Homo sapiens: one gene and its partners. The protein of the gene in region 1 interacts with the protein of each later gene in a biochemical or structural test. Each region holds a gene or a part of one and is shown on either strand. Other genes may lie near its edges.

What was found.
Region 2: the proteins of ENG (region 1) and NSRP1 interact on a protein array, tested with the Homo sapiens proteins (one large-scale study listed by IntAct).
Region 3: the proteins of ENG (region 1) and ABLIM1 interact on a protein array, tested with the Homo sapiens proteins (one large-scale study listed by IntAct).
Region 4: the proteins of ENG (region 1) and SAFB2 interact on a protein array, tested with the Homo sapiens proteins (one large-scale study listed by IntAct).

What each region holds. Positions count from the first base shown.
Region 1 is NC_000009.12:127,841,159-127,844,658, reverse strand, and holds part of ENG (endoglin isoform 1 precursor), read left to right. Parts: intron 1-1,413; coding exon 1,414-1,565; intron 1,566-3,500. UniProt on the Homo sapiens protein: Vascular endothelium glycoprotein that plays an important role in the regulation of angiogenesis. Required for normal structure and integrity of adult vasculature. Regulates the migration of vascular endothelial cells.
Region 2 is NC_000017.11:30,175,816-30,179,315, forward strand, and holds part of NSRP1 (nuclear speckle splicing regulatory protein 1), read left to right. Parts: intron 1-2,255; coding exon 2,256-2,384; intron 2,385-3,274; coding exon 3,275-3,482; intron 3,483-3,500. UniProt on the Homo sapiens protein: RNA-binding protein that mediates pre-mRNA alternative splicing regulation.
Region 3 is NC_000010.11:114,655,476-114,659,526, reverse strand, and holds the start of ABLIM1 (actin-binding LIM protein 1), read left to right. Parts: upstream 1-1,251; 5' UTR 1,252-1,326; coding exon 1,327-1,570; intron 1,571-2,932; exon of another isoform or gene 2,933-3,032; intron 3,033-4,051. UniProt on the Homo sapiens protein: May act as scaffold protein. May play a role in the development of the retina. Has been suggested to play a role in axon guidance.
Region 4 is NC_000019.10:5,605,777-5,609,276, forward strand, and holds part of SAFB2 (scaffold attachment factor B2), read right to left. Parts: intron 1-3,500. UniProt on the Homo sapiens protein: Binds to scaffold/matrix attachment region (S/MAR) DNA. Can function as an estrogen receptor corepressor and can also inhibit cell proliferation.

The DNA of each region.
Region 1 (3,500 bases):
CCAGGAGTTCAATACCAGCTTGAGCAACATGGTGAAACCTCATCTCTATAAAAATGCAAAAATTAGCTGGATGTGGTGGTGCATGCCTATAGTTCCAGCTACTCAGGAGGCCGAGGTGGGAGGATCACTTGAGCCTGGGAGGTTGAGGCTGAGGCTGCAGTGAGCTATGATTTTGCCACTGCACTCCAGCCTGAGCAACAGAGCAGAGTCTGTCTCAAAAAAATAAAAAATAGGCCAGGCGCAGTGGCTCATGCCTGTAATCCTAGCACTTTGGGAGGCCAAGGCAGGCGGATCACCTGAGGTTGGGAGTTCAAGACGAGCCTGACCAACATGGAGAAGCCCCATCTTTACTAAAAATACAAAAAATTAGCCAGGCATGGTGGTGCATGCCTGTAATCCTAGCTGCTCGGGAGGCTGAGGCAGGAGAATCACTTGAACCCAGGAGGCAGAGGTTGCAGTAAGTCGAGATCACACTGTTGCACTCCAGCCTGGGCAACAAGAGCAAAACTCCGTCTCAAAAAAATAAAATAAAATAAATAATAAAAAATAATTTTTAAAAATAAATAAAAAATAAAAATATAGGAGGCTGGCCGGGCACGGTGGCTCACGCCTGTAATCCCAGCACTTTGGGAGGCCGAAGTGGGCAGATCACCTGAGGCCAGGAGTTCGAGACCAACCTGAGCAACATGGAGAAACCCCATCGCTACTAAAAATACAAAATTAGCTGGGTGTGGTGGTGCATGCCTATAATCCCAGCTACTTGGGAGGCTGAGGCAGGAGAATCATTTGAACCCAGGAGGCGGAGGTTGCGGTGAGCCAAGATCACACCATTGCACTCCAGCCTGGGCAAGAAGAGCAAAACTCCATCTCAAAAAAAAAAAAAAAAAAAAAAAAAAAAAAAAATATATATATATATATATATGTATGTGGATGTGTGGGTGTATATATGTATATCTATATATGTATATATGTATGTATATATGTAGATCTATGTATATGTGTGTGTATGTATATATACACACACACATATATACATGGGGCCCAGTGAAATCCGAATTTCAGATAAACAATGAAAATTTAGTATAAGTACGTTCCATGCAATATTTGCAATATACTAATACTTAAAAAAATGCACTCATTGTTTATCTGAAATTTAAATTTAGCTGGGTGTCCTTCTATTCATCGACCCTATACGTAGTAGCGCTGTGACCTTGGGCAGGAGACGTTTCCTCTCCTAGCCTTGGTTTTTTTTAATCCATGGAACGAATATAATGATATCCACCTCATAAGGTGGCTGTGATGATGCAGGAAAGCCGTTAGCTCATGTCAAGTCCCTAGGAGACGTTTGGAAAGTAGGAGTCATTGTCATCACCTTATTCTCACCTGGCCTCTTTCCGGATGTTTCTCCAACAGGTCTTGCAGAAACAGTCCATTGTGACCTTCAGCCTGTGGGCCCCGAGAGGGGCGAGGTGACATATACCACTAGCCAGGTCTCGAAGGGCTGCGTGGCTCAGGCCCCCAATGCCATCCTTGAAGTCCATGTCCTCTTCCTGGAGTTCCCAACGGTGAGTGTCCCATGGCAGGGTCGGGTGGGGGCTCAGAGGAAGCTCCAAGGCAGATGGGGTGAGGGGTGCCTTCCTTGTGGCTGTCCCTGGGGCAGTGGCTGAGTCCTCGTTAGGCCCCCTGCCAAGAGAGTGATGTGGGCATCTCACAGGGCCCATAAGAGGTGGCATTTCTAGGGGCAGGGTCTGGATCAGGGCAGTCTTTTGGGTGCCACCAGAAGACTCAGGTGGGAAGAGCTGAGTAGAGAAGAGCCAGATGGGTGGGGGGGACCAGGTGAGTGTTGCTTATGCACCTCCAATGATGGAGACCTCACAGAATCTCAGAAGAATGCAGCTCCTCTCTAGGGAGCTTGGACTTTGAAAAGTGCTTCTTGGGCCAGCCACAGTGGCTCACGCCTGTAATTCCAGCACTTTAGGAGGCCGAGGCGGGTAGATCACGAGGTCAGGAGATCGAGACCATTCTGGCCAACATGGTGAAACCCCATCTCTACTAAAAATACAAAAATTAGTTGGGCGTGGTGGTGAGCGCCTGTAATCCCAGCTACTTGGGAGGCTGAGGCAGGAGAATTGCTTGAACCAGTGAGTTGGAGGTTGCAGTGAGCTTGAGATTGTGCCACTGCACTCTGGCCTGGTGACAGAGTGAGACTCTGTCTCAAAAAAATAAAAAATAAAAAAATAAAAATAAAATAAAAATACAAAAATTAGCTAGGCATAGTGGCGCATGCCTGTAATCCCAGCTGTACTTGGGAGGCTGAGGCAGGAGAATCGCTTGAACCCAGGAGGTGGAGGTTGCAGTGAGCCAACATTGCACCACTGCACTCCAGCCTGGGTGACAGAGTGAGACCCTGTCTCAAAAAAAAAAAAAAAAAAAGAAAAGAAAAAGAGAAGTGCTTTTCAGTTGAGCCCAGATCTTTCTCCCTGGAATGTCCCCTGCTGAATATCTGTGACCCTCAGAGATCCAAAGGCTGCTGCCGGCCTGGAGACGATTCTCCCCAGGAGACCCCCACTCCCAGCCCACCATCAGTTTGTCTGATACGTCTGTCCTGAATAATAACAACACCTTTGTTAAGCGCTATGTGCTAGAGACTGTGCTAGGGCCGACTCTATGCCAGGAATTAAGCATCTCACATGTATTAAGCCTCCCAAGGCTCATCTGCCAGGGTCTGTTATTATCCCCACTTCTTGGAGAAGGAAACTGAGGCTGGCTGAGAGCGATGGAGTGACGTGCCCAGGGCCAGAGTTCACACCAGATCCCTGGGGATGCCAGAGCCAGCCTGCCACTTGGTTCCCCACGTGGATCTCAGTGTTCAGGTGGCTTCTGGCCTGTTGGACTGGAGATTACACCTGGTTGATGTGGCCTTTGGTCCCGATACTGACTTCGCCGTGTCAGCTCCGGGTAAACTTATGGCCAATCTGCCCCCAAAACTGTTAAGTTGCCTTGCGTTTGTGCAGTGATAAGAAAGTGCTCAGACCACCAATATCGGGGGACCCTGCTCCCCACCGCCCTGCCCTCTACGAGGACTGTGGGCTTTGATAATTTCCAAATCATAGATAGTGCCAAACACACTTTGTGTGGTTTCCATAGGCATTGTCATTTTTTTTTTTCAAATTTGGTAATGATATTCAAAATACGACTGCCTCTGTTAGTTCGCATTGTTTGTTTTAATGTTCAGGTCCCTGTGCCTCCTCTGGGTGACTGGGATCCCCCAACCCTAATTGCTCAATACTGGGCCAGGGTGAGAGGAGGGCCCCTAGGCAGGTGTCTAGGTCTATGGGAGATAGGTGTGTAGATAGCCAGCCAGGATCCAGGGGACTGGTGCATTCTCACGGGGCACAGGGCCAGGGCACTCCAGCTGCTACGGGATTAGGCATGGCTTGTTACGGCCACACCATCCTGAACACATCCGACCTCATCTGATCTTGGAAGCTAAGGAGACT
Region 2 (3,500 bases), on another chromosome or scaffold:
TCCTCTGTGTTTGAAAATGTTCTGTATTGATACAAAAATTAGCCGGGCATGGTGGTGTGCACCTGTAGTCCCAGCTACTCAGGAGGCTGAGGCAGGAGAGTCACTTGAACACAGGAGGTGGAGGTTGCAGTGAGCCAAGATGGTGCCACTGCACTCCAGGCTAGGCAACAGAGCAAGACTCCGAACCCCCCCCCCAAAAAAAAAGAAAAAAGAAAATGTTCTCTATGTGTCCATTGGGCCAGTTGTGTTAATCCATATATATTCATACTGTTTTTTTTTGTTGTTGTTGTTGTTTTGTTTTGTTTTGTTTTGTTTTGTCTGTTCTGTTACTGAGAGGCATATGTTAAATCTCCCACTGTGATTATGGATTTGTCTATTTTTCCTTGAATATCTGTTCAATTTTTGCTTTATTTATGTTGCAACATAGTTAATAGTAACATATCTACTCAAGTGCTCCCCTACAGCTCTCCTCCCAACATATACAAAGGCATGTCATCAGTTTAAAACAGCCCTGGCCGGGTGCAGTGGCTCATGCATGTAATCCCTGTACTTTGGAAGGCCAAGGTGGGTAGATCACGAGGTCAGGAGTTCGAGAACAGCTTGACCAACATAGTGAAACTCCGTCTCTACTAAAAATACAAAAAATTAGCCAGGCATGGTAGCAGGTGCCTGTAATCCTAGCTACTCAGGAGGCTGAGGCAGGGGAATCGCTTGAACCCAGGAGGCGGAGGTTGCAGCGAGCCAAGATCCTACCACTGCACACCAGCCAGGACAACAGTGCAAGACTTCGTCCCCCCCCCCCCAAAAAAAAAACAGCCCTCAGTCTCCCTTTTTCCTTGCTTTTTGTTATTGTAGTGGTGATTATTTCTTAGATTCCATGTTTCCCTCTTTGTGTTATCCAGGCTGGTTTTGGGGAGTGAGCAGGAGTGCCAATTCAACATCTAGGCAGGAGAATCTTTCACTTTCTAAAGGTTGAGAAGTGAAAAAAATGAATTTCTTAATATTTTAAACAATATTCTAGAAAAAAAGTTTTTCAGTTAGCATGTGCATTATTCAGAGTTTAAATGTTGGTATGTAAAAACCCTAGTCTATCAGATAGATTCTTTTGAATAATTATATCATCCTATCACTTAAAAAGGATCCCTCTTGGGTTCTACATTAGCCAATCTAGCAATTGAGGAAAAAATCAAAGTGTGTAGACTCTGTACCTCAGGAATTTACAACCGGGGGCAAAAGGCTAAGATTTGTAAAACAGGAAGTAAAAACGCCCATGCCTGGCATGGTGGCTCACGCATGTAATTCCAGCACTTTGGGGGGCGCTGAGGTGGGTGGATCATTTGAGCCCAGGAGTTCAAGACCAGCCTGAGCAACATGGTGAAACTCTGTCTCTACAAAACATATAAAAATTAGCCAGGCATGGTGGCACACGCCTGTAGTCCCAGCTACTTGGGTGGCTGAAGTGAGAGGATCACTTGAAGCCTGGGAGGCAGAGGTTGCAGTGAGCCAAGATCACACCACTGGCACTCCAGCCAGTGCGACAGAGCGAGACCCCATCGCTTTAAAAAAAAAAAAAATCTAGTGTAAATATTGCAGAATAGAATGTTCCTCAGAGTTTAGAAGAAAGATCATTGGGGGTTAGAGGCCTCAGAAATGGGCTCATAGAAGAAGTAGGGCTGGCCCTGAAACACTGGGTAAGATTTTGATCGCTTGAAAGAGGAGAAAAAAACATCATTTGAGATGGAAGGAACATGATAAAGGCAGAGACTTTATGTTTAACAACTCTAAAAATGATAATGAAAGTTTAATATATAATACAGGCCTCTCAAAACCAAGGTTAGGTGTTTCCATCGTACCTTTTGACCTTTTGATGGGTATAATTATATACAAATGAATAAATGATAATAATAGTTGATGTTTATTGAATACTTATTCTCTATCAGGCTCTGTTTTAAGTTTAGTCATTTAATTATAACAGCTTAGAATGTAAATATAGTCATTATTCTTTCTCTTCTAGATGAGGAAATTAAGGTACCAAAAGATTACAAACAAACTTGCCCGGAGTAATTAGTAAGTGTAGAGCCAGCATTCATACCCAGGCAGCCTGGCTCCAGAGTTTATTTGTATTTCCTATCTAAAAATGTGATTGTAATTTTTATGATATATTTTCAATTTATGAACCATTCTCAAAAAGCATAGACTTTGTTGTATCTATTGGCTGGCTCATATTTTTGAAACATGTTTAATTTTTTTTTAAGACCAAACTGGAAATCCAGAAGGCCCTTGCAGAAGATGCTACTGTGTATGAATATGACAGTATTTATGATGAAATGCAGAAAAAAAAGGAGGAAAATAATCCCAAATTGCTTTTGGGGAAAGACAGAAAGGTTTGTAAGCTGAAATAACAAACTTTCTTTGACCTTGACCTACATTTTGTGTCTTAATCTTATTTTAACATGAGAATGATCTGAGAAAAAGCTTTTAGGTATGTGAGGTGTGAAGAGTCCCTAATTCCAGATATTACAAATTTGATTGTAGAACTCAAGCAGCACTACATATTATCCTAATAGGCCAGGTGAATTATCTAACAATTTTGCTTTTTGCTTTGAAACCTTTGCAAATAGTTTTTTGAAAACTTTTCCTTGGAATTCTAATGTACCAAATTTGTACTGTTCCTGCCCTGTGTATGTTTATTTGTGTTTTATTACCCTCTCATTTTTTCATTTCTTCCTAGCTGGTAACTGAATCATCTGCCTGCACCTATCATGATTTTATTTTCAGTGAGAAAAAAATTTGGGAGGGGTAAAAACTGAAATAAGTTCAGATTTTCTTTCTATCAACTCTTGTTCTTTCACAAGCACAGGCTGATTTTTAAGGGCATTTGCATCTGACAGTTATCTACTAGTAGAGTGATGGTATAAAATTATATTAAGCTACTATTTTAAATAGTCATATTTCTACTAAATGTGAAAAACTAGCAGGAACTTTTCTGATTTTTTTTTAATTAAGATAATACCAGAAAAAAGAAAAAAATTATATTTAGTTTGATGTTTTATTAAAGTTAAATCGCATTATAAACAATTTCTATCTCTGCTACACCTAAATTTTTATGGAAAACAGTTTCAATATTAATCTTGCTAGTAAGTTTATATTGAATGTAGGGAAGACAATCTTATTTGGGCCAATCATTTCTATCTTAATGAATTCATTATAAAAATTATAATATTAACAATTACTATTTTTTTACTCTTTTCCTAAATCTTTTTTATTTCCTTAGCCCAAGTATATTCACAACTTGCTAAAAGCAGTTGAGATCAGAAAAAAGGAACAGGAAAAAAGAATGGAAAAGAAAATACAGAGAGAACGAGAAATGGAAAAGGGGGAGTTTGATGATAAAGAAGCATTTGTGACATCTGCATATAAGAAAAAACTGCAAGAGAGAGCTGAAGAAGAAGAAAGAGAAAAGAGGGCTGCTGCACTGGAAGGTAAAATGAAAGAGTGGG
Region 3 (4,051 bases), on another chromosome or scaffold:
AGATTTTTTGTTTTGAGACAGAGTCTTGCCCGGTCACCTAGGAGTACAGTGGCACAATCATAGCTCACTGTAACCTCAAACTCCTGGACTCAACCAATCCTCCTGCCTCAGCCTCCCGAGTAGCTGGGACTACAGATGCATGACACCACACTTGGCCAATGTTTTAATTTTTTTTTTTTTTTCTGTAGAGACAGAGTCTTGCTATGTTGCCAGGGCTGGTCTCGAAGTGGCCTCAAGCAATCCTCCCACCTCAGCCTCCCAAAGTGCTAGGATTACAGACGTGAGCAACCGCACCTGCAGATGGTTCTTATGCACAGCAATATTTGGGAACTACTGGACTAGATTACCTTTGATGGCCTTGTCAGCTCTATAATTCTATTCTAGGGTTTTAATGAAAAGGAATTTATATTAGAACATAATAGCCCAATGACAGGAGAAGGAGTGTGAGTTTATTCATTTTGACTTGGGACTTTTGTATGGTTGTAGACGGTCACATTTTGTACTGCATCTTACTGTGTGGATGTTAAAGAGTAAATGATAATTACTGGGGTTGTCCTTTTTATATCAATACACTAATTCCATGAAGGTCCTTCTAGCTTGTAACTTTGTGTAAAGCTGAAGCTACCTACATGTTAATTCTGTCTCCATCATATGATTCTGCCATCACAGAAAACCCATGAAACATTACGACAGTAAACATTGGCTTAATGGAATGAGGCAGAAGGATTTTCCTGGTACTGAGGGGAGGGGTCCCCTTCTAGAAAATGGAAAGGAAATGATCGTTTACTATGGCTGAGAGCTGGATTTGTCACGAATTGAAGCTGAGGATCTTTATCGAGCCTTCCCCACCTCCACCTGTGAGATCTGAAATACTGGAAAACTTGGAATTATTACCCTGGGATTTTTCTGATAGACATTTTTAGATTATATAAAATATGTGTATATATCCCTAGCCCTATTCTCAGTACTCTTACCAGATGATACTGAATATTCTAGGAGTATTTGCAGGAGAATTCTTTTAGATATTGCAGTTATATTCTTTCTCTTATTCTGGATATTAATCTGATTTTCAAATATGCATTCATGTCTGAGACTGAAAGTCTCGAGTTCCTGGTAGTGGCTGTTTTTATACCTAGTCATCTGACTGAGAATATGGTGCCCTAAGCTCTTGAGGGTAATCACTTAAATACATCTCCCTTAATCTTCTTTGCTGGGCAGTGAGAAAAGGAGACAGTAAGGAGCCAGGGGAACAGAGAGAATTGTGGGGCAGCACCGCTCCTTGGGTCCCCACTCCCCATTTCTCATTGCTTGGAAATCCATGCCAAGATGCCTGCCTTCCTTGGTCTAAAGTGTCTGGGGAAATTGTGCAGCTCTGAGAAAAGCAAAGTCACCTCATCTGAGAGAACCAGTGCCAGGGGCTCGAACAGAAAGAGACTGATTGTTGAGGACCGGAGGGTCTCTGGGACCTCCTTCACCGCTCATAGGCGTGCCACTATCACTCATTTGCTGTATCTCTGTCCCAAGGACTACTGCCCACGTGGGCGTGTATGTAACAGCGTTGATCCTTTTGGTAAGTAAAATAACCCTCTCTGGACATGGTTTTGTGTTTTGTGATTGGCGTAATTAAGAGAGTACTATCCAGATCATTCTTCTGTAATGTGTTCTTCAAAGGAAACACTATCCTTAATATATAATTAATGGGGGTGAGGGTGGGAGAGATGGAGAATGTAACATAAGTGTAGCTACGGAGCTAAATCCCAAGGATATTTTTGTCCAGGATTTTATGATCTTCAGTAACAAATGTATCTCTTTCCAAACTTGGTATGAATAATTGTCAGTAATAGGAAGTATGATGGAAAAGAAAGATCTCTATCTGTAGATGTTATTATTTCATATGACAAAGGATGAATGGAAAGGAAATATTCAAGGGGGGAGATGGAGGCTAGCAAAAGATAAGTAAAGTTGAGGTCCAAATTGTGTCACTGTGTAGGGAGGGCTCGTCTTGTGAAATGTTCTAAAAAAGAAATAAAATAAAAAGAAAGTGTTTTAATATTGAGAGAACTTGTTGAGGCTTCTTTTCAGTGAAGCTCATTAAAACGTGTCACTCATCCCTCTGCCTGGGAAAGAGGTGGAGAAGGCCCACTCTGAGGATAGAGTTATTGCACTTGGGAGTTTTCAGACTTTGAAGTTATCATGGTGCCTTTGTTAATGAAGATGATACCTACCCAACTGCTCACACCTTGTCAAAGTCAGACCTAGAATTGGTACAGGAAGCAGAAGGCAATTAACCATGGTCCCTACGAATGTATGAAGTTAAGTCAAATAAGCCAGGAAGCATAACGCATTCCTCGTCATTCTTGGACAGCCAGAGTTGAATTGGATTCAGTTTAGCTGAAGTACTGGAGTTAAGATGTTCTGTTTTGTTGCAATCAGCTTTCAACAGCTTTATTGAGTTATAATTCATATGCTGTAAAATTCATCCATTTAAAGTCTATAGTTCAGCGAGTTTTAGTATGCAACTGATATGTTACATATATATTTTCATTGCCTCAAAAAGAAACCCTGTACCCTTTAGCTATCGCCTCCCCACCCCAACCTCTTCATCCCCATCTCTCAGCCTTAAGAAATCAAAATCTACTTTCTGCCTCTTAGATTTCCCTATTCTGGATATTTCATGTGAATGGAATTTATAATCTGTGGTCTTTCGTTTATGGCTTCTTTCACTTAGCATGTTTTCAGGGTTTACCCATGTTGTAGCACGTGTCAGTACTTTATTCCTTGTTATGGCCAAATACTATTTCACCGTATAGATATTCCACAATTTGTTTCTGCTTACACCAGCTGATGGACATTTGGGATGTTTCCAACTTTTGGATTTTATGAATAATGCCTCTATGCATATCCATATACAAGGTTTTTTTTTCTTTTTTCGTGTCAGATGGGTAATGTGCCAATGTCATAACAAGGTTCGAGGGTGGCTCACCTCACACACGCGTGTGTGAACACATCAAAAGGATCATCATATACAGGTTTTTATGTGGACATATGATATGTTCAGGGCTCTTGGGTGTATACCTAGGTGTGGAATTTCTGGGTCATATAATAACTATGTCTAACCTTCTGAAGGACTTCTAGATTATTTCACAAAGCAGTTACTCCATTTTACATTCCCACCAGCAGCATATTAAGGTCCCAGTTTCTCCACATCCTTGCTAACACTTGCTATTATCTGCCTTTTTTTTTTTTTTTTTTTTTTTGAGACGGAGTTTTGCTTTGTTGCCCAGGCTAGAGTGTAATGGCGTGATCTCGGCTCACTGCAACCTCTGCCTCCTGAGTTCAAATGATTCTCCTGCCTCAGCCTCCCAAGTAGTTTGGATTACCGGCATGTGCCACCACACCTGGCTAATTTTGTATTTTTAGTAGAGATGGGGTTTCACCATGTTGGCCAGGCTGGTCTGGAACTCCTGACCTCAGGTGACCTGCCTGCCTCCACCTCCCAAAGTGGTGGGATTATAGGCATGAGCCACCGCGCCCGGCCTTATCTGACTTTTTTATTCTAGCCATCCTAGTGGGTGTGAAGCGGTATCTCACTGTGCCTATACAGAGCTTTGGCTGGGACAGAGAGGGCTGACAAGCAGATCAGTGCTCAGGCAAGACAGGATACCGACTTCGACAGCTGCTGATGGTAACAGCTCCTTGTCTCTTACTCTTAACAGTCTTCTCTTCATGATTCCAGGCACATTCCTTTTTAGGGGAGCAGGGAGCGGGGATGAAGAAGCCATGCCTTCTGCCCAGTCCCCTTACAAGCTCTGCTAAGAAGACTTTGTTCAGAACCAGCTGAGTATGCCTATTGTAGCAAATGACACCTCCCTCAAAAATCAGATCCACATACTAGGGGATACCTAGAATCCCTTTATTGAGGAAAAAATGTTTTATTCCACAAATAGGAATAAAAATGAAACATGTAGATTTCTGCTGGAGCTAACACTTTATTCTGAATGACTTCGATGCTTCTATGGAATGTTTCTACTCAAACAGACTCAAATCAGAT
Region 4 (3,500 bases), on another chromosome or scaffold:
CCAAGACAACAATCCCTGAGAGCTCCCTGACTGCCCCTGCTCACTGCCTAGATTCCCAGGCAATGGGGGATGGGTAAGACAGCACTGAGATTCTGAGACCAAGACAGAGAGAAATCACGGAACTGAGTATCAGAGAGGACACAGCCACACAGAGCCACGCAGAGCAAGCTGAAGAGACCCACAGAGGGTTCCTCCCACCCAGTGCACACGTGTGCGAGGAAACCAGAGGCTGGGACAGCACCACCCATAAGGAGCAGAGGGAACAATCAGGAGCAGAGGGAACAACCACTGGAGGGGCACTCAGGGCCACAAATGGTTTGCTCTTCCCAATAGCCAGGGTGGAAAGGCTGGTAATTCACGGGCCATCAGACCCACTACTCAGAGGGCACTGCCCAGTGGTGAGACAAAATCAGCCCAAACTGAAGGCTACTTTGGCCCTGCCTTAGTGTGTGTCCAGTACCTCAGCTGTGTCCCAGAAAAAAGCTCAAGGGTATTTGTAGAGATACAAGTATAACTAGCACCCAAAAAATACAATTCACAACATCCAGTAAAAAATTACCAGGCACAGGCTGGGCACAGTGGCTCATGCCTGTAATCCCAGCACTTTGTGAGGCCAAGGCAGGTAGATCACTTGAGGCCAGGTGTTCAAAACCAGCCTGGGCAACACAGAGAAACCACATCTGTACCAAAAATTTTAAAAATTAGCTGGGTGTAGTGGTACATGCCTGTGGTCTCAGCTACTCAGGAGGCTGAGGTGAGAGGATCGCTTGAGCCCGGGAGCTCGAGGCTGCAGTGAGCACCACTGTACTCCAGCCTGGGTGACACAGTGAGATCCTGTCTCTAAGGGAAAACAAAACAAAACAAAAAAACCAGAAGAAACTTAAAAGCAGCCACAGAAAAAGAGAGAGAAAAGACACAAATTGGTAACTGAAGGAACAAAGATTAAATTAACCTAGAATTCTATACCCAGTGAAAATTTATTTCAAAATGAAGACAAAGTAAAGACTTTTTCTGACATGCAAAAGAAACAAGAACGTATCACCAGCAAACCTGCACTACAGGAAACATTCAATTCCTTCAGGAGGGAGGAAGATGATCTCCGATGGGAACTTGGATATACAACAAAAAGCAACGAAGAGCACCTGGTGAGGTGAACATGATTTTTTCCTGTCATTTCTGGGTCTCTTTAAAATATAACTGTTTGGCTGGGCGTGGTGGCTCACGCCTGTAATCTCAGCACTTTGGGAGGCCGAGGTGGGAGGATCACGAGGTCAGGAGATCAAGACCATCCTGACTAACACAGTGAAACCCCATCTCTACTTAAAATACAAAAAATTAGCCAGGCCTGGTGGCGGGCACCTGTAGTTCCAGCTACTTGGGAGGCTGAGGCAGGAGAATGGCATGAACCCAGGAGGCAGAGCTTGCAGTGAGCCGAGATCGCGCCACTGCACTCCAGCCTAGGCGACAGAGCGAGACTCCGTCTCAAAAACAAACAAAAACAAAAACAAAAACAAAAAAAAACACAACTGTTCAAAGCAAAAAAGCCAAACCACAACAAGTCAAAGCCAATAAAATATTGGGTGACTTCTTAAAGAGAAGTAAACCGTATGACAATAACATCACAAAGATCGACGGGAGGGGAAATGCAAGTATATTCCCACAGAGTTCTTGCACTACGCTGAAACCAACAGAGCACCCCTTGCAGACAGACTGTAAGGGAAGATGTGTACTGTAATCCTACAGTAAACCACAATGACACAGAGTTAGAGCAAATAAGCCATCAGTCATAAAAAGGACTCGACCCACAAGAAGGCAGATAAATGGGAAAAAGAGATCAATAAACAAACATGAACAGAAAATAGAGAACAAGACAGTAGATCTAACGCCAAGCCCACCACCACTGGCGCGCAGAGTAAACATTTCCCCGGGACACAGGAGTCCTGGTCTCTGCCCTATCTCTGACTCAGGGCATCAACCTAAGCAAGGCATTCCCCGTCTCTGGACCTCATGGCCCCAACTGTGAAATGACAAGGTGGAACCCACAAGCTTGAGGTTCCCATCTGACGTCCTTGGTTTTGACCACACAAATGGAGGAGTCAAGGCTCTGCCTGAATCTGTCCAGGGCCAAAGGGACAGAAGACTCTCCTGAGAGAAACACAGATGCCACTTCCCATTCTACCTTCCCATCAAATTAATCATCCTTACAAGTATATCTCTTCTGATGACAGACAAAACCCAAATGAGAGCAGGCACCATACTAAGCTTGTATGTCCCTATCCCTGAGCTATGCCATCCGCCCTGGAGGCTCTGCATACTTCAGTCAAGTAGCTGAGTGGTGTCCTGCCCCTCTGGCCTTCCTACGTCCTTCTGTTTTTGTCCAGAGCTGAGCCCCACAGGTAAGGCCAACTCTGTCACTCACGCCTCAGCTGAATGTCACTTCTTCAGCGAGCTCTGCTGAAGCTGCCTCCCAAATCTAAACACGGCCTCCCCAACACACTGACGGCGTGCTCTAATATTCCTTAATACGCTCATCACAACACATCATATGTGTTTATTTCTTAAATGGTCTTTTTCCCGCCAGACTAAAAAATCTGTGATGACAGTGACCACGTATGTTTACCTCTGCTTAATCATCAGTGTCCGAGTGAAGTCAACAAAGTAACTGAATAAACAGGTTATTCATGGCTATAAGAATTTCCTAAGCCCTTGCTGAACACACAGACTGTTCAGAGAAAAATTGAACAGCACGCTTTCTCCGGGTCCTGTCCGCTTCTTAAGCAATGAAACATTAACCAACACCTGATCGGGTGACACAGACCTAGACAAAGGAACGGCTTCTGTAGCCAGAAAACTGTGTCAGACAGGGCCCACTCTGCCTGGAATCAGGGCACCCTCCAGACACTAAATGGTCCGAACCTTGTCCCTTGGAAGCCACTCCCCAGAGGCACCCAGGAGACCAGGGCAGTGCCAATTGCTTACCAGAAGACTCTTGGCTAGGCGCGGTGGCTCACGCCTGTAATCCCAGCATTTTGGGAGGCCAAGCAGGCAGATCACATAGGTCAGGAGTTGGAGACCAGTCTGGCCAACATGGCGAAACCCCATCTCTACTGAAAATACAAAAATTAGCCAGGCATGGTGGTGGGTGCCTGTAATCCCAGCTACTCGAGAAGCTAAGGCACGAGAATCACTTGAACCTGGGAGGGAGGCGGAGGCTGCAGTGAGCCAAGATCACACCACTGCACTTCAGCCTGGGCAACAGAGCGAGACGCAGTCTCAAAAAAAAAAAAAAAAAAAAAAAGAACAACAAACAAACAAAAAAAGAAGACTCTTAATTAATTTCAAACAGTGGAATCATTTTAAATTGTCCTCACCTTCCTTTGGAAAGCTGCTGAATTGTACTATTTTTCTCCCACCCCCATGAGCAGCATCTTAGTGATTTATTTTTGAACCACGATCATGTTCTAGTTATGAGACTATATACTTAAAATGCTAAATGATAT